Homo sapiens: one gene and its partners. The protein of the gene in region 1 purifies or fractionates together with the protein of each later gene. This does not show direct contact. Each region holds a gene or a part of one and is shown in the gene's direction. Other genes may lie near its edges.

What was found.
Region 2: the proteins of MAP3K3 (region 1) and XPOT purify together in Homo sapiens (tandem affinity purification; one large-scale study listed by IntAct). This does not show direct contact.
Region 3: the proteins of MAP3K3 (region 1) and TUBB6 purify together in Homo sapiens (tandem affinity purification; one large-scale study listed by IntAct). This does not show direct contact.
Region 4: the proteins of MAP3K3 (region 1) and UACA purify together in Homo sapiens (tandem affinity purification; one large-scale study listed by IntAct). This does not show direct contact.
Region 5: the proteins of MAP3K3 (region 1) and CREB3L2 purify together in Homo sapiens (co-immunoprecipitation; one large-scale study listed by IntAct). This does not show direct contact.
Region 6: the proteins of MAP3K3 (region 1) and CPVL purify together in Homo sapiens (tandem affinity purification; one large-scale study listed by IntAct). This does not show direct contact.
Region 7: the proteins of MAP3K3 (region 1) and SCIN purify together in Homo sapiens (tandem affinity purification; one large-scale study listed by IntAct). This does not show direct contact.

What each region holds. Positions count from the first base shown.
Region 1 is NC_000017.11:63,681,134-63,685,290, forward strand, and holds part of MAP3K3 (mitogen-activated protein kinase kinase kinase 3), read left to right. Parts: intron 1-632; coding exon 633-766; intron 767-1,202; exon of another isoform or gene 1,203-1,625; intron 1,626-4,157. UniProt on the Homo sapiens protein: Component of a protein kinase signal transduction cascade. Mediates activation of the NF-kappa-B, AP1 and DDIT3 transcriptional regulators.
Region 2 is NC_000012.12:64,410,704-64,414,860, forward strand, and holds part of XPOT (exportin-T), read left to right. Parts: intron 1-4,157. UniProt on the Homo sapiens protein: Mediates the nuclear export of aminoacylated tRNAs. In the nucleus binds to tRNA and to the GTPase Ran in its active GTP-bound form. Docking of this trimeric complex to the nuclear pore complex (NPC) is mediated through binding to nucleoporins.
Region 3 is NC_000018.10:12,321,312-12,325,468, forward strand, and holds part of TUBB6 (tubulin beta-6 chain), read left to right. Parts: intron 1-3,497; exon of another isoform or gene 3,498-3,755; coding exon 3,756-4,157. UniProt on the Homo sapiens protein: Tubulin is the major constituent of microtubules, a cylinder consisting of laterally associated linear protofilaments composed of alpha- and beta-tubulin heterodimers.
Region 4 is NC_000015.10:70,658,746-70,662,902, reverse strand, and holds part of UACA (uveal autoantigen with coiled-coil domains and ankyrin repeats), read left to right. Parts: intron 1-2,686; coding exon 2,687-2,752; intron 2,753-4,157. UniProt on the Homo sapiens protein: Regulates APAF1 expression and plays an important role in the regulation of stress-induced apoptosis. Promotes apoptosis by regulating three pathways, apoptosome up-regulation, LGALS3/galectin-3 down-regulation and NF-kappa-B inactivation.
Region 5 is NC_000007.14:137,879,860-137,884,016, reverse strand, and holds part of CREB3L2 (cyclic AMP-responsive element-binding protein 3-like protein 2), read left to right. Parts: intron 1-1,388; coding exon 1,389-1,605; intron 1,606-3,465; coding exon 3,466-3,541; 3' UTR 3,542-4,157. UniProt on the Homo sapiens protein: Transcription factor involved in unfolded protein response (UPR).
Region 6 is NC_000007.14:29,139,823-29,143,979, reverse strand, and holds part of CPVL (probable serine carboxypeptidase CPVL isoform b precursor), read left to right. Parts: intron 1-4,157. UniProt on the Homo sapiens protein: May be involved in the digestion of phagocytosed particles in the lysosome, participation in an inflammatory protease cascade, and trimming of peptides for antigen presentation.
Region 7 is NC_000007.14:12,643,268-12,647,424, forward strand, and holds part of SCIN (scinderin), read left to right. Parts: intron 1-870; coding exon 871-1,048; intron 1,049-1,316; coding exon 1,317-1,438; intron 1,439-4,157. UniProt on the Homo sapiens protein: Ca(2+)-dependent actin filament-severing protein that has a regulatory function in exocytosis by affecting the organization of the microfilament network underneath the plasma membrane.

The sequences.
Region 1 (4,157 bases):
AATATCATTACTCATAAGCCAGGAAGTGTGGGAGTGGGTAGGAATGGAGAAGCCTGCCTTTTGATCCTGGCCAGACCATCACGAAGGCCTTTTTACCTGATACAAGTAGAGAACAAATAAGGGGAGACACTGGCTGGGGGAACAGGGCAACAGAGAGAGATGCACAGGTATATTCAGTTACCTTTCCCTGGTCCCCACCCTCAAAATACTGCTTGGACCCAAAACTAAAGAGGACTAAGCTGATGTATTGAGCTGATGGGAGGAAATGGCATTAGTGCTCTAGAGGAAGAGAGAAGGTGACATTATGAAGGAGTAATTATATATAAGAATTTTTTTAAAAGCTAGTCTGATTGCCAGCTAAAATGGTCTCCTAGGGGTTATTCTGGTTTCTGTTTTGTGTCAAGGTTTTTTTGGTCGGATATGCCGTAGTGCCTGCTCCATCTCTGGAGTTTGTTTCCTATTAGGAAGGGACTTTGTTTGCCTGAGGGAGCTGGCACATGCTGGACGTTGGTGCCATGACCCATCTGAGTCACATTCCTGACCTCTAGGGCCTAATAGTTGGCCCCATGCCTGCTCCTCTTGGGCCACACACCCTGGGCTCTGTTGTTGAAAGCCTCCTTTATGTGCTCTAGGCTCCCAGAACCCTGGCCGAAGCTCACCTCCCCCTGGCTATGTTCCTGAGCGGCAGCAGCACATTGCCCGGCAGGGGTCCTACACCAGCATCAACAGTGAGGGGGAGTTCATCCCAGAGACCAGCGAGCAGTGCGTGAGTATAGGGGGGCTGGGATATGCCTGTGGCCTGTATCAGCAGACCAAGCTCATAACAAGGGGTTCTTAGTAGTCACAGTGCAGAACTGAGGGACATGAACCCCATTTGAAAGCTCTTTTATAAACCAGGCCTGCCCAAATATGGATTGTCCCTTTTTAAGGGCCAAATAACAATTTCTGCCAAAGATGGGATCTAAAGGATCTAAACTACATAGTTTCCTTGTTGTTGGGTGAGGATTTAACAGATTTTTCTTCATCGTGGTCCTCTCATTGTTCCTACAGGCAGGCACCACCACGCCCAGCTCATTTCAGTAGTGTTTTAACATACGACTGGTTCTAAAGTGACAGGTTATGTTTTTCATTGGATATATTTTAGTTTTGCTGTTTCTTGATGAAAGGTAAGGAGTAAACCATATCAAAATTACACTGTAGGATTGGTTAGGCTGATCATTTATGATGGTAGACAGTTGTATTAGTTATCTATTGCTCCATAACAAATTACCACAAACCTAGAGGCTTAAAACAATATACATTTATCATTTTCCAGTTTCCCTGGGTGAGGAGTCCAGGCATGACTCAAATGGGTCCTCTGCTGAGGGTCACACAAGACTGCGATCAAGGTGTCAGCCAGGCTGCCTGCCTTTCTTGAGTTTGAGGCTCTTTTCTAAGCTCAGATGGTTGTTGCCAGAATTCAGTTTTTTTGTGGCTGTAGGACTGTGGTTCCTCTTTTCTTCTGAATGTCACCCAAGGGCTTCTCTGAGTTCCCTTCCTAGAGGCCACCTGCAGTTCCTTGCCATGGGGCCCTCTCACAACATGGCAGCTTCTTCAAAGCCAGCAGGAGAATCTTTTGCTCCAATCTGCAAAGATGGAGTCATAAAACATCACATAATCATAGGAATGAATATTCTATCCTCTTTGCCATAGTCTATTGGCTAGACTCACGTCACAGGTTCTACTTGCACTAAAGGGAAAGGCAGTTCATTGGGACTAATTGGAAGAGGGAGCAATCACCTTAGGGTGTGTCTACCACAGTGGCTCAGCCATTTTAGTGGCTAGCTTTTAAATTGGTGGCTTACTTGATGCAAATGGCAATTTGGCTTAGTGAACTCACCAAGCATGAGATCTCTAGCTTCATTCTGGTCTTTTCAATAAACTTGCTTTGATGTAAAAGAAAAGGCTGCTCTTACACTTTCTGGGCTTGGCCTGAGAAGGGGAAATTTCTTAAGGGGAAAATGTCCAACAGAAGGGCCTGTGCTGTCACATGGGAGATCTTATAAAAAGCTGATTCTTGTAACTTTTCTTTCATTATTCAAACTATGTAGGCTATGAGAAGCCCTTTGTACTCTTCTTCCTTCTATACTCCTGCCTTCCAGATAAATTCATGTTTGGAGTAGTGACCTGGAGTGCCATTAGCTGCAGATTTCCTTTTTGGGCATTTTACTGACCATCCTTTCTGGTTTCTCTAACCAGGGCACTTCTGGACATCAGCTGTTCTAGGGGTGACTTGGGTGTAAAATCCCAGAGATTGCAGATGAGCTTGATTGCCCTCAGTCTATGTCCCTCGCCATGGTCCTATACTCTGCCCCCTTCACTTTTTTACTTTGCCTGCATGGCCCTGGAAGGCCTGGGAGGATTTGACTCCCAGTGAGGACAGACTTTTAGAAAGAGGCCAAGGAAGGCAGTGGTTGGGGATTGCCAAGGTCCTCCCCCAGCGCCTGCCTCTTTAGCTGAAGAGAATTGCTCCTGGTAACAGGCCATTTGAGATCAATCTGCTTAACAGGAACGAACACTGCATAGTATGTAATAAAAGAATATTCCAGTGTGACTTTACTGAAAAGTGAAAATATGATAAGTTTTGTTTTTTCTTTAATCAGGTTTAAGCAATAATTGCATCTATTTACTAATTTTTAGAATGAGCAAAGCATGATTCATGTTAATTTTTTGGCCTAATTTTTCCAACAAAAATTATGTCAGTCCGGTCGCAGTGGCTCATAGCTGTAATCCCAGCACTTTGGGAGGCCAAGGCAGGAGGATTGCTTGAGGTCAGGAGTTCAAGACCAGCCTGGGCAACATAGCAAAACCCTGTCTCTACAAAAAAAAAAAATTTAATTAGCTGGGCATAGTGGCACACCTGCCTGTAGTCCCAGCTACTCGGGAGGCTGAGGTGGGAGGATCACTTGAGCCCAGGCTGCAGTGAATTGCACTCCAGCTTAGGTGACAGAATGAGACCCTGTCTCGAACAACAGCACCAACAACAAAATGCTAGCACAATGTAACGTCCTTCACTCCCTGCTTGACTTCTAACCATAAAGAACGTCATTTTTTACAAGAGCGTTCACAGGACTCAGCAGTTTTCCCCAAGGCCTCTTGTGAATCTTTGGTATTCTTCCTCCACCACACCTGCCATGTTATTTATTTGTCCATTTTGTCTTTTTCTGTTAACTAGTCTAAATTTGCCAAATATGCATCTGATGGATTTAAAGCAATTCTCTCCGATGTTGGTTTCATCCACTTTGGCTATCCTATATCCTTAGCAACATTTGCAGTTTTACTTTGCAATTAATTTGCCTTGATTGGCAGATTTTAAAAAATCATGTGTGACAACATGACTTAAAGCATTTGAAATTATGGGTGGGGATGGACCCTGGTATTAAATGGGAAAAAATATTTGAGTTGGAAACTAATTTTATGGAGGTCGTTAGTGAATTTTCATAATTCTGATACTTTGTTTCCCTATGTAATTTTTTAAAATTAATTAAAAAAATATTTAAACAGAAACAAGATCTCACTATGTTGCCCAGGCTGGTCTTGAACTCCTGAGTGCAAGTGATCCTTCCCTCTCGGCTCCCAAAGTGCTAGGATTACAGGCATGAGCCACCAAGTCTGGCCCCTATGTAATGTTTAATGTTGGAGCTCGGATAATGAATATTCTGAAATTGAAGACCCCACCCCAACTTTTGTGCAGAGAAAATGAAAGGGAGGACCTTCAGGACATTGATTGGAGAAAAAGGGATTCCAAAGGCCTTTTGTTGCTGCATTTGACCAGGGGCCAGAGAAATATTTTATTATATTTAGATATCTATTACCTCTGCATTGGACCAGGAACTGGGACATTTTTGTTCTGGTATCAGCTGTGCACTAACTAGTTTTATGACTTTAGACAAGTCTCCTAACCTTTCTAGGCCTGTAGTGCTCATCTGTGAAATGAGGCAATCCTTGTCTTTGTAAATTATAAATTATGGAGTGTAAACAGAAGCATTAAGGTCCCACCCGAACTCACTGGAAGGCTCAGCAGGGTAGTACCATCTCCAGCGCCAGGCTCCAGTGTTAATGAGCCAAGAACATGCCAACAAGAAAAGCAGAGCCTCTGCTTTGCTCTCCTGCCAGAG
Region 2 (4,157 bases), on another chromosome or scaffold:
ATGGTTACATGACAAGAATCCATTATAAAGTGCTGGGATAGTTGGATAAATGTAAACAATTAAATATAATGTAGCCTACAACTATAATCATGACTATAGCTGAATGATAGAAAAATATAAAGAATGAGCCTATAATTAATTTTTTTTAAAGACGTGGGCATTTGGAACTATAGGGTAAGTGGAAAGGAAAGAGGCATTTTCTTTTTACTTTTCATAGCAAAGAATACTTTTTATAAATGAGCTAAATGAGGTTAACAATCTCACTAAAAATTATAGCAGTTTTTATTCTTATTTTAAGAAAAAAATCTTTTAAAGCAGTAAAAAACAATCCCAACTAGTTTCTAATACAGTACCATGTGCATGTCTCTGCTACTAAATAAGTAACGAGCCCTTCAGATACAGGAAAATAATAGGAATTGAGATTTAAGTATCTGGCTAATTACAAGATACCTATCAAACAAGTTAGGACATCAAAAGACATTTAAAATCCATGTCTTCTGTGTGTAAACAAATCTTTCTTGTCATAGGGTTTTATGCTACCTACCTTCAAACATAGTTGAAGTATCATAGATCTTTACCTTTAGTCTAGCTTGGTATTGCATGCTTGTAATTAAAAGCCTTTGACTGTATGTTTAGTTATTAAATGGCCTTTACTGTTATTTTTATGTGCCTCTTGAAATCTTTCATTTCTTAAGTTCCAGCATCCAATTTTTGGATGAAAGAGGCATTTTCTTTGCCTCTTAAGTTCCAGCATCCAATTTTTTTAAATGTGCCATGATTTCTTTTTCAGAAAATTAAAACCAATACATTATTAGTGGTTTTAATACAGAAGCTCTGCTTTTTGTCAGTAAAAATGGGTTCTGTCACATACGTGTTTTAAGCATCCAGGTCCAGGCATAATTCAGTATCCATTTAGCCAATCTGAATAACAATTTATTAGGATGAAAGGGAAGAAATCTTAAAGTGAATTCTGAAAGCCCTTTTGTTGCAGTTCGGGAGTAGTGGAAACTTAATTCAGTTTGGTGGTGAGAAGAATGACTGTCTGCCAACCCCAATTGCTCAGTTGTCTATCTGTAATTCTCTGTTTTTTACATGGGCAATAAAAGTTGAACTGACTCTTGTCACATAGAGTCAGTCAACCATTAGAAAAAAGGTATGGGGTAGAACTAGGTGGTGAAAGCTAGGACTTGTTTGTCAGTGTTGTAGAATTTTGTTTTTTTAATTGTTAGTAATGCATAGATTCAGAATACAAAGGCTTTGTTTAAAAACTAAAAACTTCCACGTTATCTCTCCTCTCCTTCCTCTCACCCCTGCCCCGCCCCCCGCCCTTTTTTTTTTGAGACAGAGTCTCACTCTGTTGCCCAGCCTGGAGTGGAATGGCACCATCTTGGCTCACAGCAACCTCCAACTCCCGGGTTCAAGAGATTCTCCTGCCTCAGCTGGGATTAGAGTAGCTAGGATTAGAAGCACACACCACCACGCCTAGCTAATTTCTGTATGTTTGGTGGAGACGGGGTTTCACCATGTTGGTCAGGCTGGTCTCAAACTCTTGACCTTGTGATCTCCCTGCCTCAGCCTCCCAAAGTGCTGGGATTACAGGCATGACTCACCGCGCCCAGCCTCCTCCTTTTTAAAAAATAAAACACTCGTCTTTGGCTTAAAACCTGTTATTATTTAAAGAAAATGGTATGTCATGACATTTCTAGCAGCTGAAACCACCTCTCCCCTCTTTTGTAAGTGAAATATTAGGTGGTAATGCAACATACATGATTAACTTCTACCTTGTCCTCTGGCCTCTGAGATATTCCTAAAGAATACCCTATGTTTCATGGACTGCTGTTAGAAACAACTAAGCTAGTACTATCTTTTATAGCTGCCTGTGTTCTTATAGTCTTAACTTCTAAAGAGAGACATTATTTACTCTGGGCTGTTTTCCAATACCAACAACCAACTCTCTTGATTTCTGTGGACACCAACTGGGTGTCCTACAAATCAATTCAATTCTGACACTACCAGGATTAGCATCACATCCCACAAGTTATGGGCTCGGTCTTACAAACCGCCCCCACTTAAGACACTAATTGAGTCCAGAACCTCTCATATTTCTGATGATGGAGTAGCCTACAGAACTTAGAAAAACAGTTGACTTTCTTGTGCTGATGAAGGATCCACCTCATGAGCAGCCACATGGAAGCGATGCATAGGGCAAAGTATAGGGGAAGGGGCACAGAGCTCTTGTGCCCTCTCTAGGAACACCACCCTCTCTAGGAACACCACCCTCTCAGCATCTCGATGTGTTTGCCAACCTGGAAGTTCAAGAGTTTTTATAGAGCTGAATCTTGAGTCCCTTCTCCCCTTCCCAGAGGTTGGTGGTTAGGGTAAAAGTTTCAACACTCTAATCAGTTGATCTTTCTGGTAACCAGCTGTATCCTGAGGCTGTCTAGTGTTCCCACACCAAGTTACCTCATTAACATAAACTCTGTTGACCCCGAAGTCTCTAGTGATCCTTCCACCTTAGCCTCCCAAGTAGTTGGGACTGTAGGTGCACGTCACCACTTCTGGCTAATTTTTAAATTTTTTGTAGAGACAGGGTCCCACTATGTTGCCCAGGCTAGCCTTGAACTGCTGGCCTCAAGTGATCTTCCAGCCTCAAGTGATCTTCCCACCTTGACCCCCCAGAGTGTTGGGATTATAGGTGTGAACTGCTGTGCCTGGCCCAAAGGACTCATTATAAATAACAAAAGACGGTCCTGTCGCTCAGGAAATTTTCCAAGAGTTTTAAGGGCTCTGAGCCAGCAACTGGCTGCAAAGCCCAAATGTATTTTTTCGTTATACCATATATTTAATATTATATTTGGTGATCTTCACCTAATCATCTTCATTTACCTGGTCTTCTGTCAGTGGGAGCAGCCATTGAGACCATGTATGAAAACCCATTCCCTCATTCATACAGTTACATAGTATAGGAAACTATCACCTAAATATAAATACAGTGGCTTTGATCTGTAACCCAAAGAAAAAAATAACTTTACATCTCGATGACCCAGTGTGTGTGTATATATTTATAGGTACATATGCACATAAATAACTAAAACAAGTTACAGAAAGTAATATTCTTGCTAGGGTATAGTACAGAATATCTAATATTCTCTATTTCATTTTTAAAAATTATTGTTCAGGACCCATAAACTGATTTCATCACTAGTGGGAGACACCACCGTTTTAAAAATATTTACCAATTGAAATTAGGTTTCTCTAAGGCTAATGTTTCTTTTACCTCATGTCAGCTTTTGTTTCATACATAATTGCTGTCAAATCATCTAGCAGTGCTTCCAGTTGATGTGCAATTTTCTTGTCTATTGGAGATACTTGTCACAAGATGTTCACTACTATTTGTCCATTGCCATGTGTGAAACCTGCATCTGGTGCAACATGCTGATGGGAAGAGTGCCTGAAGTAACTCCCATTTTCCCAACAGTTTGGTAGAGAGCGTATGGACTTGGTGCTGCATCCATTCTAGAGTACTCTTGCTCCTTGTTGGCACTGTTACTTGTGATTACAAGGCCCTGAATTCATAAACTTAGAGATAAAAAACTTCCTCGAGCTTTGACCTTTTCAGTTACTTAATATTTTTCAAAATTCATATCATGCACTTGTACTCCAATTTTAATCTCTTTAGGGAACTTACATGATATAATTAAAGACTTGAAATACTCTCCTGTGTAACAGTAGATCAGATAAGGTACACAGTATGTTTTATCTTTTATAATCACCGCTTTAATAGCAGATGTGCTATTAAATAGGAAAAGTGCCCTTCACGTGCCATTTTATAATTGCATATTATAAAATGATCACACCCTTAACTCATCCTCTGCAATTTCTCAGTAGTATGGCACTTGACAAAGCACTTGCTCTCATTCTTCATAATAACCCCATGAAGGCTGCGGGGCATTTTTGTGTTGTTGCTGCTGTAAGAAAACAGGTTTGATTATCTAACTGATGGAATTTATATTTATTTAACCTATTTTTAGGAATGACCCCAAGTTGCATATATTCGGAAGCCTGCATTTAATGTTTTAACTGTTTTTCTATTAAGTTTACTGATTTGTTATAGGTTTGCAACTCTCAGAATATTTTGTTTATATTAGCAGGGCATT
Region 3 (4,157 bases), on another chromosome or scaffold:
GTGTGTAGCACTGATAAATGCTTCATCCCCCCCAAGAGTAGAGCCACTGTGTAAGGCTGCACTTGTTATGTACTGCAGAAGCCAGGGGTGCCATCAGTAGACCTCATTGTGAGCAGGCCCGTGTCCCAAATTGCATGGGAGCCCCTTGTCCACTAATTAAAGATTGACAAGTGAAAGGCAGCTTGCTTACCCGATGTAGCACTTGGCAGCTCTCAGAGGCAGCCTTGGTGGTTTCACTGCTTCATAGTTCAGTGCCCCCAGGGTGAGTGCAGCATCAGGGATGGACCTGCCCACGTGAAACCAGAGAGGCTGGTCTTTGGCAGTGGCTGTGAATTGTTGCCACCAGCCGTGTGTAGACAAAAGTCAAGTTGGAGTAAGTGGGGAGAGGTCTGTATAATGCAATGCAAGTTTTTATGACTTGAATTAGTTAAATCTGCAGCCCAAAATTTCATGAAAATAAATATTTAAAACATTTTATTAAAAATTAAATTGACAAAGTCATATTAGAAATTAGTATTTCAATTTTCCCAACTCTAAGTATACTGGAATAAATTGCCTTAAAGTGAAAGAGTGAGAGTGTATTTAGTAAGTCTTGGTTAAGCCTTTTTGGTTTACATTCAGAAACAAGAAAAGAATGACTGATGTAAAATGTCATGACCTGCAAGTTAGGTCGTTTCCAATTCTGCTTTCTTCAACATTGAGTTGTTGGCCAGGTGCGGTGGCTCATGCCTGTAATCCCAGCACTTTGGGAGGCCGAGGTGGGCGGATCACTTGAGGTCAGGAGTTCAAGACCAGCCTGGCCAACGTGGTGAAACCCTCTCTCTACTAAAAAATACAAAAATTAGCCGGGTGTGGTGGCAGCACCTGTAATCCCAGCTTCTCGGGGGGCTGAAGCAGAATTGCTTGAACCCAGGAGGTGGAGGTTGCAGTGAGACAATACCGTGCCACTGCACTTTAGCCTGGGCAACAGAGTGAGACTCCATCTCAAAATAAATAAATAAATAAATAAACAAAATTGAGTTAAGTGACAGATGATTGAAAATACTTTTTTTTTTTTTTTTGAGACAGGGTCTTGCTCTGTCACCCAGGCTGGAGTGCTGTAGCACAATCTTGGCTCACTGCAACCTCCATCTTCTACGCTTAAGTGATCCTCCCACCTCAGCCTCCCGAGTAGCTGGGACTACAGGCATGCACTACCAGACCCAGCTAATTTTTGTATTTTTAGTAGAGATGGGGTTTTGCCATGTTGCCCAGGCTTGAAAATACTTTTTGATAATAGCTCACTATTTGATTTTTGGGATGTAACTCTGAAGACAATCAAAGAACTGAATGACATTGTAGAACATAATTCATTCCCATTTACATATATCTGTGGACAAGATTTCTCATATATGTAAAAATTAAGAGGAATAGAATTGATCCCAAGCCTTGGCCCTTTCTGGCAGTATTTAATATTCACCCTTGGATAAATGAATTAATAGGAAAAAAATAGATATAGATAGGTAGATAGATAACATTTAATACTTTGTAATCACAGGAAATTAAAAAGAATCAACTTCAACTGATTGGAATTATTTCTGATTTTTAATATATTCTATCAATACATTTAACAGAAGAAGAGTTTTTTAAAGTGATTATATTGTTTCCAGAAATTAAAATTATATCATATGCAACTATTTGACTTATGAAAAATAATAGATGTTAACTTTAAAATAAATGAGAGGTATCTAGTATCTAGTTTTTTCAAATGTTCATTAGCCAAGTGTAGTGGCATGTGCCTGTAGTCCCTGCTACTCAAGAGGTTGAAGTGGGAGAATCACTTAAGCCCAGGAGTTCAAAGCTGCAGTCAGCTAGGGTGGTGCCAGTGTACGCCACCCTGGGTGACAGAGCGAGACCTTGTCTCTAAATAAATAAATACAGATGTTCACAGCAATGTATGAAAGCCATTGCATTATATGAAACTCGTAGTGCCCAGAAAACCAAAAACAAAAATTAGTTCCTCCCACTCCTACGTGCATCTGTTCATATGGACATACAAACCTGTGTAATTTTTACAGCTGGGAAAAAAATGCTTCTGCTAGTGAAATAATCCATTTTAAAATGAGATAAAATGAAAAATAGGATTTTAAATTTAAGAGCCAATCTTTCAGATTCAATTTTTTTTAGGTAAAGTAAGATATACATAAGCCTGTCTGGCAAAAATGCACCATTATGGGGCTGGCCCGGTGGCTCACACCTGTAATCCCAGCACTTTGGGAGGCCGAAGTGGGTGGATCACGAAGTCAGGAGATTGAGACCATCCTGGCTAACATGGTGAAACCCCATCTCTACTAAAAAATACAAAAAATTAGCCAGGCGTGGTGGTGGGTGCCTGTAGTCACAGCTACTTGGGAGGCTGAGGCAGGAGAATGGTGTGAACCCGGGAGGCGGAGCTTGCAGTGAGCCGAGATCGCACCACTGCACCTCCAGCCTGGGTGGCAGAGCAAGACTCCGTCTCAAAAAAAAAAAGCACCATTATGCAGAAAACAGACTAGGTCTCTTTCTTGTTACTTGAACTCTGCATAAAATACAGAAGTCTTTCAGACATATTAAGCTCCTTTTCTCAACTGGCCTGGAAACAATTTGAGGGCAGGAATTACTTCCTGTGCTTAGTATTTAATTATAGGGGCAGAATAAATAATTGGTTCTGCAAACATTTTGCAACAGTAATTCTGGATGATGAATGAGGGGCTCCATTAACATGAAAAAGTGTCAAGTTTTAAAAATAAAATACTTGGGCCGGGCGCCGTGGCTCACGCCTGTAATCCCAGCACTTTGGGAGGCCGAGGCGGGCGGATCACAAGGTCAGGAGTTCGAGACTATCCTGGCTAACACGGTGAAACCCCGTCTCTACTAAAAATACAAAAATATTAGCCAGGAGTGGTGGCAGGCGCCTGTAGTCCCGGCTACACGGGAGGCTGAGGCAGGAGAATGGCGTGAACCCAGGAGGCGGAGCTTGCAATGAGCCGAGATTGCGCCACTGCACTCCAGCCTGGGCGACAGAGTGAGACTGCGTCTCCAAAAAAAAGAAAGAAAGAAAAGAAAATACTTATACATAGTACAGTATAAGATTCAGAAAGCCCAAAGGAGAGAACTTTTTTTTTTTTTTTGAGCTGTAGTCCCATTCTGACGCCCAAGCTGGAGTGCAGTGGCACCATCTCAGCACACTAGAACCTCCACCTCCCAGGTCCCAGGTTCAAGCAATTCTCCTGCCTCAGCCTCCCAAGTAGCTGGGACTACAGGCTCCCCACCACCACGCCCGGCTGATTTTTGTATTTTCAGTAGAGATGGGGTTTCCTCATGTTGCCCAGGCTGGTCTCTAACTCCTGACTTCAAGTGATCCACCCGCCTCGGCCTCCCAAAGTGCTGGGATTACAGGCATGAGCCACGGCGCCCGGCCAGTAACTTATTTTTTTAATGTATACCTTTTGTTCCCTTTGAATTCTACCATGTGCAAGAATTACCTCTTTAACATGGAACAACCAGGTCAAAATGTATATACATCTTTAAAATTGACCAGTAGCTACTTTGACTTGCCTAAAAACGTACCAGTGCATCTGCTCAGCTGCACCGTTGGTGGGTGCCTGTTTCCCCGGCCCCTCCCTTTGGCTAACAGCACATCATGGAATCACTTCACACCCTCCTTGTCGGTGACCAAGCATGGTGATGGCGCAGCCCTTTCCTGTTTAAACGGCACGGGACTCTCTTTGTTGCAGGCCAGACGGGTGCAGGGAACAACTGGGCGAAAGGGCACTACACGGAGGGCGCGGAGCTGGTGGACGCAGTGCTGGACGTGGTGCGGAAGGAGTGCGAGCACTGCGACTGCCTGCAGGGCTTCCAGCTCACGCACTCGCTGGGCGGCGGCACGGGCTCAGGCATGGGCACGCTGCTCATCAGCAAGATCCGTGAGGAGTTCCCGGACCGCATCATGAACACCTTCAGCGTCATGCCCTCGCCCAAGGTGTCGGACACGGTGGTGGAGCCCTACAATGCCACACTGTCGGTGCACCAGCTGGTGGAGAATACAGACGAGACCTACTGCATCGACAACGAGGCGCTCTATGACATCTGCTTCCGCACTCTGAAGCTGACAACGCCCACCTACGGGGACCTCAACC
Region 4 (4,157 bases), on another chromosome or scaffold:
TATGGTTTTAGGTATAACATTTAAGTCTTTAATCCATCTTGAATTAATTTTTGTATAAGGTGTAAGGAAGGGATCCAGTTTCAGCTTTCTGCGTATGGCTAGCCAGTTTTCCCAGCACCATTTATTAAATAGGGAATGGTTTCCCCATTTCTTGTTTTTGTCAGGTTTGTCAAAGATCAGATAGTTGTAGATATGTGGCATTATTTCTGAGGGCTCTGTTCTGTTCCATTGGTCTGTATCTCTGTTTTGGTACCAGTAGCATGCTGTTTTGGTTACTGTAGCCTTGTAGTATAGTTTGAAGTTAGGTAGCATGATGCCTCCAGCTTTGTTCTTTTGACTTAGGATTGACTTGGCGATGCAGGCTCTTTTTTGGTTCCATATGAACTTTAAAGTAGTTTTTTCCAATTCTGTGAAGAAAGTCATTGGTAGCTTGATGGGGATGGCATTGAATCTATAAATTACCTTGGGCAGTATAGCCATTTTCATGACATTGATTCTTCCTACCCATGAGCATGGAATGTTCTCCCATTTGTTTGTATCCTCTTTTATTTCATTGAGCAGTGGTTTGTAGTTTGCCATGAAGAGGTCCTTCACATCTCTTGTAAGTTGGATTCCTAGGTATTTTATTCTCTTTGAAGCAATCGTGAATGGGAGTTCACTCATGATTTGGCTCTCTGTTTGTCTGTTATTGGTGTATAAGAATGCTTGTGATTTTTGCACATTGATTTTGTACCCTGAGACTTTGCTCAAGTTGCTTATCAGCTTAAGAAGATTTTGGGCTGAGATGATGGGGTTTTCTAGATATACAATGATGTCATCTGCAAACAGGGACAATTTGACTTCCTCTTTTCCTAATTGAATACCTTTTATTTCCTTCTCCTGCCTGATTGCCCTGGCCAGAACTTCCAATACTATGTTGAATAGGAGTGGCGAGAGAGGGCATCCCTGTCTTGTGCCAGTTTTCAAAGGGAATGCTTCCAGTTTTTGCCCATTCAGTATGATATTGGCTGTGGGTTTGTCATAGATAGCTCTTATTATTTTGAGATACGTCCCATCAATACCTAATTTATTGAGAGTTTTTAGCATGAAAAGTTGTTGAATTTTGTCAAAAGATGGGGTCTTCTATGTGGCTTAGGCTTGTCTCCAATGGGGTCTTGCTATAGGCTGATCTCCTGGGCTCAAGTGATCCTACTGCCTCAGCTTCCTGAGTATCTGGGACTATGCTTTTAATTATGCACTAATACACATTGAAATGCTAAGTAAAACGGCCCAGTCACATGTAAATTGTTGCTGATGTTTCCCTATTTCATAGAATTGTTTGAGTTATTTTTTAATAGAAGAAAGGTTTTTTGTTTTGTTTCTTTTTTAGTGTTTATTTTTTAACACTGTAGGCCTACAGATTAAGGATGGCAAATTGTGGATTTGGATCTTATCCAAAGAGTATAGTGTCCCTTTAATAATTGGAAATATTTGTTTATTGTTTATTATGTTCATGACCCTGTGCTAAGTGGGATAAAGAAAGTATGCCATTCCTGTCCCCAAGGAGTTCTGGGTAGTTAGAGAGGCAAAATACAGATTCATAAAAAGTAAAAATCACAAGATGAGAGATGTCAAATGTAGAACTGAGAATGCAGATTCTAAGTGATAGGGGTTTCCAGGAAGGAAAGATTAGTGGTGTGGTAGAAGCTAGTTTTTAAAGAAGGGAGTACCTGGCTTGAACTTGTAACGTAGATGCTATTTTGGTAGGTGAAAGGAAAGTAGAGGCTCTTCCATCTAAAGAAAATAGTGTAAAAGAAGCGTGGAGATGGAATACAAGTGGCATGGCCAGAGGGCAGTAAAAGCCCTGCCTGTAGAGTAGTCCCTCTCTTATCCACTGAGGGTATGTTCCAAGATCCCCAGTGGATGCCTGAAACCATGGATAGGACCTGCTGAATGAACCCTATATAAGCTATGTTTTCCCCCCAGATATACATACCTGTGATAAAGAGTAATTTATAAATTGGGCACAGTAAGAGATTAATAACAACATAATAAAATAGAACAATTATAACAATATGTTGTAATAAAAGTTATGTGAATGTGGTCTCTCTCTATATCTCAAAATATTGTATTATACCATGGGCAACAGAAATAGAGAAAGTGAAACTGCTCATCGCAAAACTGCCAATAAGAGGGGACTGCTGTATTTGAAAGTTAATGTTTGAAGCCAAACTGTGGAAGTCATTGAGAACCAAACTGATGAATTTGGATTCTCTCATGTATGTAAAGAAGTGTCACTCAAGGTTTTTGAGCCAAAAGTGATGTGAGGAAATAGGTACCTTAGTCTCAGAGGCATGGTAAGGAATATAGTGTGGAGATAGTAAGACAGGATGGGAAGCGTTTGCAATAATCCAGACATGTGATAAGTGTCTTCAGAAGTTCATGGCACTAGATATGAACTAAAGCAATAATTTGATGTTGCTTAGGGAAAGTAGCATTACTGTCATTAGCCACACATTCTTTACAGAAGTTTATATTGTTACGTTTTGAAATTCTGCATCTGGTAGGTCCAAGGTAGTTTGTTGTTAGAAGTAGCAGGATCGCCTTAATAATAATAATAGTTTTGTAGCATGAAGCCTGAGCATTGTCCAAAGTTTGGAAATGTGAACGCTGATAGTCACATCTGTCCATCTTTCCACATTTCTAGGATGCTGACAGACAGCACCAAGAAGTAATTGCAATTTATCGGACACACCTTCTTAGTGCTGCACAGGTAAAGAACTACTTCTCCTTTGGAAAGAATATTGCTTTAGAGATAATAATTTTTTATTTTCAAATAAATTTATGTGAAAGTAATTGATGTTTAAAGTAGCTGCACCCCCTATGCTTATTTAAAAATAATTATGTTTCTTTTAATCATTGTTTGTGGATCTCCCAGAAAAATTTACAAAGCTATATGGCAACACAACATCTTAAATTTAGTGTCGTCTCCATCTGCTTGTCACTCAGTTTATAGACAGTTTGGTAACATGTGATGGTAGCACACGTTAATGGTGTTGCTAGCTGGAGATAATGCCTTGACATCCACGTGTGGCTGTCATCTAAGAGGAGAGTGGGAATGGCTTTGAATACTAGAAAAGTACAAAAGTGACAAGCAGGGTGTTATGTGTATAGGATTGTAGTAATTAAAAATGATCTGTTTTACCAAGCCTTAACTTGGCTTGGTAAAGCCAAGGATTAATTAAGGAATAACAGTATGAATTCCCTTTTTTAGGGGTGTACTGAGAAAGTTATTGTTAAAATCATACTAAGAAATTACTAACATATAAAGGATACTATGCTTAATTTCCTGTAGAAACCCCGTGAGCAGCATCTTCAAAATTCTCAGAATAGATTTTTTTTCAGGAAGAAAATGTACTAAAAGAAACAAATTTTAGAATGACAGAGATCCTGGGAATTATTTGGATTTGAAGTATGTTAGGCCACACTGTAAAAACAAGCAAAAAAAAAAAAAAAAAAAAAAAAAAACAAACAAAAAATGAAGAAGGGAAAGATGGATGTTGAGAGAAAGCTTCAAAAAAAGAACAATTTTAAAAAGAGAACTAGATAAAATAATAAAAAGAAAGATACTTTATGATATCAAATTCTTAAAATCAATAGACCTGCCTCTTCTATAGGAAATGGAGGGGAAACTAATGAAAAAGAATGAATGATATGATAGAACAAGGGATCTTAGCTACTCTCTTTTGAGCAAATCAGAGATAAACTAGAATCTTAAAGTTTATTGCAATTATTAGAGAAGATTATTGAGGGACAGTGAATAGGAAGTTCAAGTGGGGAAATAGCAGAAAATCTGTATTAGAGAGGCTGAGAAACTCACTAGTATTGGCCATGAGAGGAAGAGGTTGCTCCTAATGAAAAATACAGCAAACTAACAAGCCTTTCCACTTTGTATAATATGCACTTCCGGAATTTGAAATTATTTTCTACTGTGTCCTAATGAAACATAACAAAAGCAATTGACATCAGAAATAGTCTTGCCTTCTGGCATCATAAAGTTAACTAAGAAATTCAGTTCAGTCAACTATGGCTAATGTTTGAAATGTAAACATCCTGCTGTTATAGAAACAGATTTTGGAAGCAAAACTTTTCATATTAATAGGAAGTGTTGTGCTGAA
Region 5 (4,157 bases), on another chromosome or scaffold:
CAAACAAAAAGAATCAGCCTGCCTTCCAAAACCTTATGCCCAAGATCTAGAGAATATGGGGACTCCGGTGTCAGATAAGAAGCGTATGGTGTTCTCACCTAGAAATAAAGGGATGGTGAGTAAGGAATACACACACAAATTCACACCTACACCTATAGGAATGAGCATGGGGTTAGGCAGTACAGTAGTCCCCCCTTATCTGAGGTTTTGTATTCTAAGCTTTCAGTTACCTGTAGCCAATGAACATACCTGCAGTTACCTTAAAATAGCTGAATACACTATAGTAAGAAACACTACCTGCAGCCAATAAAAATACCTGCAGTTATCTGAAAATAGCTGAGTACACCACCATAAGAAATTTTGAGAGAGAGAGGCCACATTCATGTAACTTTTATTAGAAGATATGGTTAGAATTGTTCTATTTTATTATTATTGTTAATTTCTTACTGGGCCTAATTTCTAAATCAAACTTTATCATAAGTACATATGTATAGGAAAAGGCATATGAACCCTACATGCTATATGCCCATATATAAACCCTGTATGGTTTTTCCCATACATATATACCTTATACCATATATATAGGGTTCAGTTCTATCTTCGGTTTCAGCCGTCCACTGGGGGTCTTGAAATGTATTCCCCATGGATAAGGGAGGACTACTGTACTGGATTTGGGATAGGGAAAATTTTGCCATCTTGAAACGTCTGTGGTCTTCACCAGGCAGGTGTGTCTCTGCCAGGTATGACAGAAGTGCTAGCATTCCAATTAAATAATTTCAGTGGCCTGTTGAGAATTTTTCCCCCCAAGGAACTATCTCTCTAAATTTAATTGGAAGCATAGTTTCTATGTCATGGAAAATTGCTACAGAGCCATCTAGCTGTGTGACTGTCCTACAAAACAAAGGAGATTGTCTCTATCCTTTGATTTATGGCTTTGGCTTTGTGTCTCCTCTTCCCTTTCTAAATGAGATGCCCTGTACCTCATCCCCCTGCCAGACCTACTCACTGGGAATGCTGCTTCTTTTAGCTGGGTCTGGACATCTCCAAGTATTCCACTCCCATTCTCCATGAATCATTTTCCCTAGATGGTTATGGGTGGTAAGGGGGGAGTTTTATATTTTCAAAGCAGTGGGGGTGGTAGTTTGCCTTGTGTTTATTTGCTTTTCTATTGTTCTTCCAGCACTGTATAATTGGTATAATTTTTCAATGCACAAACTCCGAAGCTCTAAAGTCTTTATAGAAAGCCAAATTCTGTTGGCACCCATGGTTCTGGGCAACGAGAACACACACATTGTCATCTGCCACCAGCCCTGAGCACCTGGAGTGAGGGAATGTGTTGGACCCCTGTGGTCTTTTGCTAACACCTTATTATTCTGCTCTGTCCTCAGTGAGATCCAGAAACCTGCTGATCTACGAGGAACATTCTCCCCCAGAGGAGTCATCCAGCCCGGGCTCGGCTGGGGAGCTGGGGGGCTGGGATAGAGGTTCCTCCCTGCTCAGGGTGTCAGGGCTGGAGTCCAGGCCGGATGTGGATCTTCCCCATTTCATTATCTCGAATGAGACCAGCCTGGAGAAGTCAGTGCTTTTGGAGCTGCAGCAGCACCTGTGAGTCATAGAGACACAGAGCCAACTCCTCTAGTGCACTGATGGTGGGTTATGAGTCAGCAACCTGAGATGTGAGGTTGAGACTCTCCATAGGCCTGGTTCAGTCCCTCAGCTCTCTCAGGACCTATTTCCAGGACCTGGGACTGCAGAGAGTCTGTTGCTGGCCAACAGTTGCCCTGAGCAGAGATGAGGAAAAAAACCAGCGTGAGCTCCCCTATGTCTGCTGCATCAGCGGGGAGCTGGCGTGGTGGCACAAAGAAGTGCTTGAATCCCTTCCCCCACTGTCTCCATCCTCCCTTCCAAGCCACACGAGTGAATGCACAGCCCAGGTAACCACAGTGTGTTTGCTGTGCAAATCCAACTTTAAGACATGTTTCATGGCTTCAACTAGGGAGTAGATATATATTGTGCTATATGTCAATATATGTTTATGATTTATATGTAAATACACATGTGTTAATTAAAACTATACATATTATAGTTTTATACTTATAGATGTATGTTGAGGGGTACCATTTAAGAGGCACTGTGCACACATTTCCATATTGAGAACAACCTCTATTTGGCTCCAATTCTACATGAGTTGTTTCTCAGTTTCTGGGAAAAATCCCTTTGTAAACATAAAGGCTTATGCGACTGCAAGGTATTGTTGTTGTAATAGGGGAGGTCCCTGGGCCTGCATGCATGCTCCTGGTTACGTGTGACATGGTTGGTGATTTAGCTGAACTCTGCTCCTATGCCTCCCAGAAATGAGGCCGTTCCGATGTAAATGGGAAAGATTTTGTTTCAGATTCTTCAGCTTTCATCCCCTAATTCTGCAGGGGAAGGTTTATAATGAAGTACTTTTATGTGTGTACATTATACATACATATTTAACATTTACTAGCACTTACTATTTTAAGCACTTTACAGATGTGAGGCAGGTTGACTATCCCTTATCTGAAATGCCTGGGACCAGAAGTGTTATAGATTTCAGATTTTGGAATATTTGCATTATACTTAACAGTTAAGCATCCCTAATCCAAAAATGCAAAATGCTTCAGTGAGCATTTCCTTTGAGCGTCATGTCAATGCTCGGAAATTTCTAGATTTTGGAGCATTTTAGATTTTAGATTTTCGGATGAGGGCTACTGAAACAGTATCATACAAATCCTTTTAAGTATCCCATGTGGTAAGGCATCATTATTATTCCCGTCATAGAGAGACTTGCCAATGTAGCCACCGCTGGGATCTCTAGAAGACCCAGTGCCTTCTTACTTGGCTCTGGACACAGTTTCTCTTCTCTCAGCTAAGCTGTTCAAGGCCCACTTCAAATCCCATTTGTTCTGTGATGTCTCCTAGATAACAAAGCCTCCTAGCCCTCCTCTGAATGCCTAGAAATTTTCCAGGTTGTTACACAATTTAATAATGTATTTATTTTCTGTTATGGATTTATTATTATTTCAAATTAGCTCATTGTTAAAAATCTTTATCTGGATTATTAGCTCTTCTAGGCCAAGGATCAGCTCTTATCATTTTATTTTCTCCTTCCCTGAGTTTAGCATAGGGCTAAACATCCTAAGTAAATAGAATAATTTAATGCATCTCATAGCAGATCAATATCAAGCCACCATGATTATCCTTAGTAGGGTTGGGATGCCTTGGGTGTAGATAAAGGTAGGAATGTGGACTAGTGGAGAGGCTGGTAGCAGGGGACTTTGGAAACAGAGAATTGCTACTAGGAGAGAAAAGGACAAGAAACATGCCCAGGCCGTCTCACCAAGTTGCAACCCCTGAATGATTGCATCACGCTACAAAGCATGAGAATTGTAGCTAACAGCTGGTGACTAATACTTCGTTTTCCTTTTAATGCCTTCACAGGGTCAGCGCCAAACTGGAGGGGAATGAAACACTAAAAGTTGTAGAACTCGACAGAAGAGTGAACACCACTTTCTAAAGAGGCTGCCTGCACCCCCTCCCTTTCCCTTAACTCTACTTTTACATCCCCAAACCACCTTTGTCATCAGCTTTTCCTCTTTGCCACTGGATCTTCATGGAGACATGGGCAAGCATTAGTGGCTTCAGATTGGAGACCAGCCTGGGACTTCCCTGCAGTGAGAGAGCATCTCCCCCTGGTCCATGCCCCTCCTGTGCAGAAGGGAGCCTGCATCCCTCCCTTCCTTTCTCTTACTGCCATAGGAAATTATTTTAGGGGTTGGAGGTGGGACAAGCAGGCTTGTTTCCACCAATAGTGCCAAAAAGATATTGCCTAATGTGCACCTGTGAGGTGTAACCCCCCGCTTTGGAGACGAGATGGCTCTTGTTCAGTCAAGACCCCAGACTCTGGCCACAAAAATGCCATAATGCCTGTTGGTATTTGGCAAAGCACTGACCCGTGTCCTCCGTTGCTCGCACTGGGGTCTCTGGTGTGAACACCCCCGACAGCAGCCCTCCGCCCACTCTGCCCCCTGGGAGCCCTCGCTGGATCGTCTCGTCTCCTGCAGCAGCACTGGCAGGCGAGGGCTCTCGTTCATATTCTCAGGCCGCAAGTGCAATGCCTGAGGGGATCAGGC
Region 6 (4,157 bases), on another chromosome or scaffold:
TTAATAGACAGTTCACAAGACAGCTGTTACAGCGTATCTGAACTGAAACCAGGGTATTGAGATTGCTCTCCCTTAAGAGATATTAGAGGTATAACCTTGAACATGAAATCACATGCTTTCATTGCTTTAACTCAGACCCTGGGGTGCAGGACAGGGTGGTGGTAGTGAAAGAGGGGGAAGGACTGTGTCCTTAGATCTTGGAGCCTGAAAAAGCAAATTCTTAGCAGCTTATCTTTCCAATATAGTTGGAACTTACCTCCTACCTTTTTCTCTCTAGTCTGATTCTAGTTATTGGTTGTCTTTAAATTGCTTAGAATTGTTTACAGGCCAAAATATTTACTTTGAACCCTAAAGGTAAGCTCTTCCTCCTTTCCTTTTTGGGACTCTGTATCCCATTACCCCTCTTTCAAAAAGATAGTGCCACATATCTTTTTGTACTGTATGATTCTTGGGAGAGAATGTAACCCAGGTCCCAAGCGATTCATTTTCTCATTTATTTATTCATTTAACTAATTTTTTCCCAGTGTTTGATTATGAAAAGGTTTAAACTTTCAGAAAAGTCAAAAGAATTTTGCAATCTAGAATCTACCTAGATTCTATTATTGATTAGAAGCCAGGGTATTGATTTCAATTGATTAATCAACTGGCATTGATTAGTTCCTACTGTTTGCCTGGAGGTTTGCTCAGCAAAGCTGTAAAAACATAAAAGGCAGGGTAGGGTTAGGGAACAAGGAGAGTTTTGATTTGGCGGAGCATAGGCTAAGAGTTTGTGAAGGAATCATGTAACTTTGGTTTGAAAAGTTATGTTGAAGTTGTATCATGGAGGACATTAAATTTCATCGTAGAAAGTTTATACTTTTTCCTGGTTGCAGGTGGGAGCCATTGAAGGCATGGGAGGAATGGAGTGCCTTGTGTTTTAGAAAGCTCACTGAAGCATCAGTGTTAGGCTAAATTGGAGGGAAAAGGACCGGAAGTCTGAGAGATGTGTTAGGAAGCTTTGTAAATGTCTCGGGGCAAGTAAGGGTTGAACTGTGGATAGAATGGAGAAAAAAGGAAGTAGAATAGCACTTGGTGACAGATTTGACTTGAGGACTTCTGGTTTTAGAACTCAGGCATCTGCAATTATAAGGGAGCATCATTAAGAATCTGGAAGTCGCTGGGCATGGTGGCTCATGCTTGTAATCCCAGCACTTTGGGAGGCTGAGGCGGGCAGATCACCTGAGGTCAGGAGTTTGAGACCAGCCTGGCCAACATGGTGAAACCCTGTGTCTACTAAAAATACAAAAATTAACCAGGCGTGGTGGTGCATGCCTGTAATCCCAACTACTCAGGAGGCTGAGGCGGGAGAATCGCTGCAACCCGGCAGCAGAGGCTCCAGTGAACCGAGATTGCACCACTACACTCCAGCCTGGGCAACAGAGCAAGACTGTGTCTCAAAAAAAAAAAAAAAAGTATCTGGAAGTCATAGAAGGAGGAAGTTTGAGGAGAATGATGACGTCCTGTTATAGAGTCAGTGGGTTTGAGGGGCTGATTGGTTATCCTTTTGGAGGTGACAGCTGACAGTGGTGATACTGTCCTGAAATGCCCAATAGCAATGTCAGGACTGAACAAACATTTGGACTAGTGATTAATACTCAAGGGGTGGTTGAATGGGAATGTACGGAAAGAGAAAAAAGGATAAGATCTTGAAGAAAATCTGAATATATGGAGTCCTTGGAGCAAAAAATAAATACAGGTGTTCAATGATCTGTTAGTATTTTAATGCCTGTTTATCTACAGTGTTACTATAGCTGCAGTTCTCATTAATAATTGACCACAGTTCCTAACTAAAAGACCATATCTGCACTAGTAAAGTGAAGTAAGTCTTTCCTTTTCCCATTCTGGGAAGTTCAGGGGGTAAGGTGAGGCAGAGGAAAGAAGAAGAGAAAGTTAAATAAATTTTTTTATCTAGGACTTTTAGAGCATACAACGCTTTTTCCAGGTAACCCACTTGCAGATCAGAAGCCAGGTAATTTAATGAACTTGTCTATCTTTTCACAAGGCAACAGCTACTTTTTTTTTTTTTGAGATGGTGTCTCACTCTGTTGCCTAGGCTGGAGTGCGGTGGCACAATCTCAGCTCACTGCAACCTCTGCCTCCTGGGTTCAAGTGATTCTCCTGCCTCAGCCTCCTGAGTAGCTGGGACTACAGGCGTGTACCCCCACGCCTGGCTAATTTTTATATGTTTAGTAGAGACAGGGTTTTACCACGTTGGCCAGGATGGTCTCCATCTCCTGACCTCATGATCCGCCTGCCTTAGCTTCCCAAAGTGCTGGGATTACAGGCGTGAGCCACAACGCCCGGCCAAGGTACAGAGTTTTTAAGTGGCAGAAGCCACATTTGAAGCTGTGAAGGCATACTTTGTTTTTTTATTTTTTATTTTTATTTTTTGAAATGGAGTTTCACCCTGTCGCCCAGGCTGGAGTGCAGTGGGGCGATCTTGGCTCACTGCAACCTCCGCCTCCTGGGTAAAAGCGATTCTCTTGCCTCACCTTCCCAAGTAGCTGGGACTACAGGCATGTGCTACCATGCCCAGCTAAGTTTTGTATTTTTAGTAGAGACGGGGTTTCACTATGTTGGCCAGGCTGGTCTCCAACTCCTGACCTCATGATCCGCCCACCTCAGCCTCCCAAATTGTTGGGATTACAGGCATCAGCCACCGTGCCCGGTCTGAGGGCATACTTTAAATCTTTCATGCTATTCCCACCGGACTGCATTGCCTTCCTATATGCTACTGACTGTATGCTAGGTACTGTGTTAGGCGTTTGCACATGTAGGCTCCTTACTGTGGCCCCTCTGTTTTGAGAAGGTGATCAGCAGGGAAGCTCAAAGCACATTGCACAATTGGTTGTTGCACAATTGGCAGGATGTCTGCCCTCTGATTGTGCCTTGTTTTCACCCAACTTCTTGAACTCTACAGGAAGGGCCAGCCTCTCTCAGAAATGCCAGCCCCTAAAGCTGGTACAAAGGTCATGCAACCTTCCTACTTCCCTGAGTTCAACAATCACTTCATTCATTCTCCTTAAGATCATACCTAAAATCCTGGCTTATTTAAGGGTGAAGTGGAGAAAAGCTCTATTTTCACTTATGCATTTGTTTTACCCCATCAATCTTCTGCCTTCCCTCATTGTCCCACAGTTGTGCCTGTCTAAGGTCACTTTTTGCTTTTTTCTTATTTTCCTTCCCTGGGGAGTCTTTGGAGAGAGGGTGCGATAGAATGTGTAGCCTGGAGCAAGATTACCCCCAGTTGACTATGGAAGCCCTGAGAATTATGCTGCTTCCTCAATGCTTTTTTCCCAAAGTTAGAAGTAGCAAGTTGTATAGTGAGTAATAGGATTTGCATTGTGAATGGGGTCTTCCTCCAGTGAGGACTTTACTAAGTGCAGTGTTTATTTGTAGTGGGGCACAGAACTGCATTCCTCATGCTTTATGACAGTATTTAGGGTTTACTGGTTTTCATGCATGTCTCTCTTTGCTAGAATGAGGGCTCCTTGAAGGTGGATACTGTCCCCTTTTCATCTTTAACTACTCCACAAGTTTTAGCAAAGTGTCTCACCCTTTACTGTATGGTTAGAAAATCTCTGAAGAGTTGAGTTCTGTTAAAGGAGAGAAAACTATTTGTATAGAAGAGTGTGGGTAGAAGCCTGTTTGTTTGTTTGTTTGATGTGAGACAGGGTCTTGCCACATTGCGTAGGCTGGTCTTGAACTCCTAGGCTCAAATAATCCTCCTGCCTCGGCCTCCTAAAGTGCCGGGATTACAAGTGTGAGCCACTGTGTCCAGCCGAGGCCTGCATGTTTGAATGGATCAAGAAATGTGATTGTTTAGTGCTGAGGGAGGGTAGGTAGGTTGCAGGGAAAGGCCTGGCTAGGGAAAAGCTCATATGCTCCTAAGTCAAGCAACAAGAAATGTAGAACGTGAAATAAAGATGAAGCCATTCTGAGTCATGTGCAGACCGTGGGAAATATCTCCCTGTATTTGACAAAAGGGGAAATGGCAGCCATAGCTAATTCTGAAGATGAAAAGTGTTCCTGCCTGGGTTACTTGATGAAGAATATTATTAGCAATCAGCAAGTCAAGTGGAAATAATTTGTTTTGTTTTGTTTTCTCCCCTTCTAAC
Region 7 (4,157 bases), on another chromosome or scaffold:
AAGGCTTTATAAAGATTCTGTTTTAGATCTCATTTCCTGATCTCACACCAGTCTGGGCACAGGTCTCTTGTCAGCTTCTATCCATCATCCGGGCTCTTTCCTCTGTACCCATAATGAGATGTTTGTATTAGAAATTGGAAGCCCTGGAAGCCAGACTTGGTTCCTGTAATTCTCCATAATCACATCTGATAGATTCCTTTGAGCTTGTTCTGTGAGGCCTCATTCCTGCTGGGAGAGGACTTTAACTATTTTCCTGAATGTTCCCAATTCCTGGACATTCCTTTAAAACTTCCAACAGCCATTCCTTCCACCTCTAGTGTTCTCTCCTTCAACAGGCTCCTGACAAACCTGGTGAAATTCAACTCTCCACATCATGGCTGCCTTCATCCTGGCAGTTCAGTGTGGTTGGCCAAGCAGCACCATTTGGCACAGCAAATCACCCCTGCCTTCTTGAAGCATTTTCCTCACTTGGCCTCAAGATCACTTTACGCTCTTGTTTTCCTCCTCCGTCTCAGCTGCTCCCCCTCAGTCTTGCTTACTGGTTCTTCTTCCTCTTTCTGGAATCACACATCACACTTGTTTGACAATTATACAGAAAGTCATACCAGTGACATAGTAGCACAGTCATATGGTCAGACAGTTCTCACAGAGACAGACACAGAGTCACAAATCCACAAGTGACACAGACCGAAGTGCTCCTACTCTAGGGTTTAAAATACCATAGTGGTGTCCCAGAGCGGCTCTGAATTAATTTCCTGGGATAGGGCAGAAGGCGATGTATGGTTTGCCACAGTCACAGCTTCTGGGACATGTTTATTGAGGGAGCAGCAATGAATTTGAATCATTGTTTTATTTTTCTTCATATTCCAGGTTGATGTTGATGCAAATTCACTGAATTCTAACGATGTTTTTGTCCTGAAACTGCCACAAAATAGTGGCTACATCTGGGTAGGAAAAGGTGCTAGCCAGGAGGAGGAGAAAGGAGCAGAGTATGTAGCAAGTGTCCTAAAGTGCAAAACCTTAAGGATCCAAGAAGGCGAGGAGCCAGGTGTGTGCTCTGGGGCCAAGGGCACTAACTAGAATTTATACTGATACGATTGCTAATCATCTTTTTTTCACCAAAAAGTCACTTTCTAATGGCTTATAAGGGTTAACAATCTCTCCATTAGTTGCAGAGGTGGGTGGGTGATGGTACCTGATTTCTTTAAGTAATTTCTCAACACTGAAATCAAGGTGAGATAATATTTGTTCATATAAAGCGACAGCAAGCATATGTCCCTGAAAATGCACTGGATAACTGAGTGTGTTTTCCACAGAGGAGTTCTGGAATTCCCTTGGAGGGAAAAAAGACTACCAGACCTCACCACTACTGGAAACCCAGGCTGAAGACCATCCACCTCGGCTTTACGGCTGCTCTAACAAAACTGGAAGATTTGTTGTAAGTGTCCTTAAAAATAGTGCGATAGGGCTGGTTGCGGTGGCTCATGCCTGTAATCCCAGCACTTTGGGAGGCCGAGGCAGGCAGATCACCTGAGGTCAGGAGTTCGAGACCAGCCTGACCAACATGTAGAAACCGTCTCTACTAAAAATATAAAAATTAGCTGGATGTGGTGGTGCACACTTGTAATTCAAGCTACTCGGGAGGCTTGAGGCAGGAGAATCACTTGAACCCAGGAGGCGGAGGTTGCAGTGAGCCAAGGTCGCGCCACTCCACTCCACTCCAGCCTGGGCAACAAGAGCAAAACTCCGTTAAAAAAAAAAAAAAAAAAGGGCCGGGCGCGGTGGCTCATGCCTGTAATCCCAGCACTTTGGGAAGCTGAGACGGGTGTATCACGAGATCAAGGAGTTCCAGACCAGCCTGGCCAATATGGTGAAACCCCCTCTCTACTAAAAATACAAAAATTAGTCAGGCATGGTGGTGGGTGCCTGTAGTCCCAGCTACTTGGGAGGCTGAGACAGGAGAATCTCTTGAACCCAGGAGGCGGAGGTTGCAGTGAGCCAAGATCGTGCCACTGGCACCACTGTGTTCCAGCCTGGGCAACAGAGTGAGACTCCATCTCAAAAAAAACACAAAAAACAAAAAACAGTGAGATAGAACCTAACAACGCCGGGAAGGGCATTCCCATGTGGCTCTGACACCTTCAGACATGCTACTGTTCTGAATCTCAGTTTCAGCCTGCCTACAAACCACGGTGACAACCTTTGCTCTACACAGGGTATTTTTTTTAAACTTTTATTTTAAGTTCAGGGGTACATGTGCAGGTTCGTTACATAGGTAAACTTGTGTTGTGGGAGTTTGTTGTACAGATTATTTCATCACCCAGGTATTAAGCCTAGTATCCATTAGTTATTTTTCCTGATCGTCTCCCTCATCCCACCTTCCACCTTTCGATAGGCCCCCAGTGTGTGTTGTTCCTCTCTATGTGTCCGTGTGTTCTCATCATTTAGGTCCCACTTATAAGTGAGAACCTGCAGTATTTGGTTTTCTGTTCCTTACACAGGGTATTTTAAGGATTAATGATATAATTAATGTGAAAGCATTAATGTTGTGATGTCCTATATAGATTAAGCTGTTCTTAAAAGTACTAGCTACTTTACACCTGTGTGAGCATGCAGTTGCTGTATGAATATATATGTGGCTAGATGTGTTAATTTAATAATTTGGCATTTTCTGTGGGCAGCAATCATTATTTCTGATCAAACTATGTAAATTTTACATGTCAATTTCCCAGCGGAGTAAAAATTTTCACCATATTGACTGAATTAAAAATATTATGGAAATATTATGATCATTGGGCAAAAATCACAGAAAGCTATATATGCAGTTACAAATTAACTGATATCAACAGGAATGTTTTATTTCATAGTCATTTACAAGCTTTGACTTCCAGTCCAGTCAGAAGTAAAATTAGAAGTATGTGTATGCATGTCTTAGTTCAAGCTCCTATCACAAAAATACCATTGACTGTGTGGTTTAAACCACAAACATTTATTTTTCATGGTTCTGAAGGCTGAGAAGTCCAAGATTAAGGCAACAGCAGATCTGATGTCTGGTGAGGGACCACTGTCTAGCCTTCTTGTGTCCTCACATGGCCAAGAGAGCAAGCTCTAGTCGTGTTCTTTCCTTATAAAGACAGACACTAAGCAGGGGCACTGTACCCTCATGGCCTCATCTGAACCTAATTACCTCCCAAAGGCCCCACCTCCTACTACCATGCCATTGGAGGCTAGGGGTTTAGCATAGGAATTCTGGAGGCAAACAAACATCCAATACAAAAGAATACAGGAGTGATTTTACACTAGGCTCTGAAATATCATCCTGAACCACAGCCTCTCACCTAAATTTCAAAAAAAAAAGTTATACTTTCTCTGTTTGACGTGCTAAGTTTTTGGTAAATTTTTCATTTAAAGAATGAATTCTTCTTTTATATAAAATTTGATCCACAGATTTTGGTCAACATGCCCTAGTGAATAAATGCAAACTTCATTTTTCAACACAGGAAAGAAAATTTCCCACGTATTTTGTCAGATATTTTGATTACTAGAAATAAAATTATTTGAGATGAAGTGGTTCAAGTCTCCCTTGAAGGTTATAAATGATTTGACCTACAAGTTAAAGATTTAAACAGTGCATTGAGATAAATATTTGGTTGCTGTATACCACAATTTGCTCACCTACTTTACAGGAAATCCCTGAACTTGCTATATTTTATAGATTTGTCATCAGAAAAATCTGCTGTTTTATTGTTTTGACTTGATATTGCATCCAAGCAACTTATTTTTCAGCATATGCTCCTATAATTTCTTATTAGAATTATTTATTAACATTGCTATAAATTAGTTGTTTGTTTCCAAGAAAAATGTATTTTACAAAAATAAGTACCTAGGCTTTGTTCTCAGTGTGTTTAAAGAAAAAAGATCTGTTAGTCTTTGGCTTTTTGTTATGCGTATATATTAGCCTTTAAGAGAAATATACATTTCCTCTGCACCAACTCATTTTCTTGTTTGATATTTGGAACCCCTTCTGCTCCCTTTATAGTTTAAGGCAAAGGATTGTTGCTAACAAATCTTTGATCTTATAATTACTATCAGAAAGTAGGCTTTACACGTGTAGATTCCTACAAGGCAGCTACAAGGCAGCAGAGCTTATTAACTAA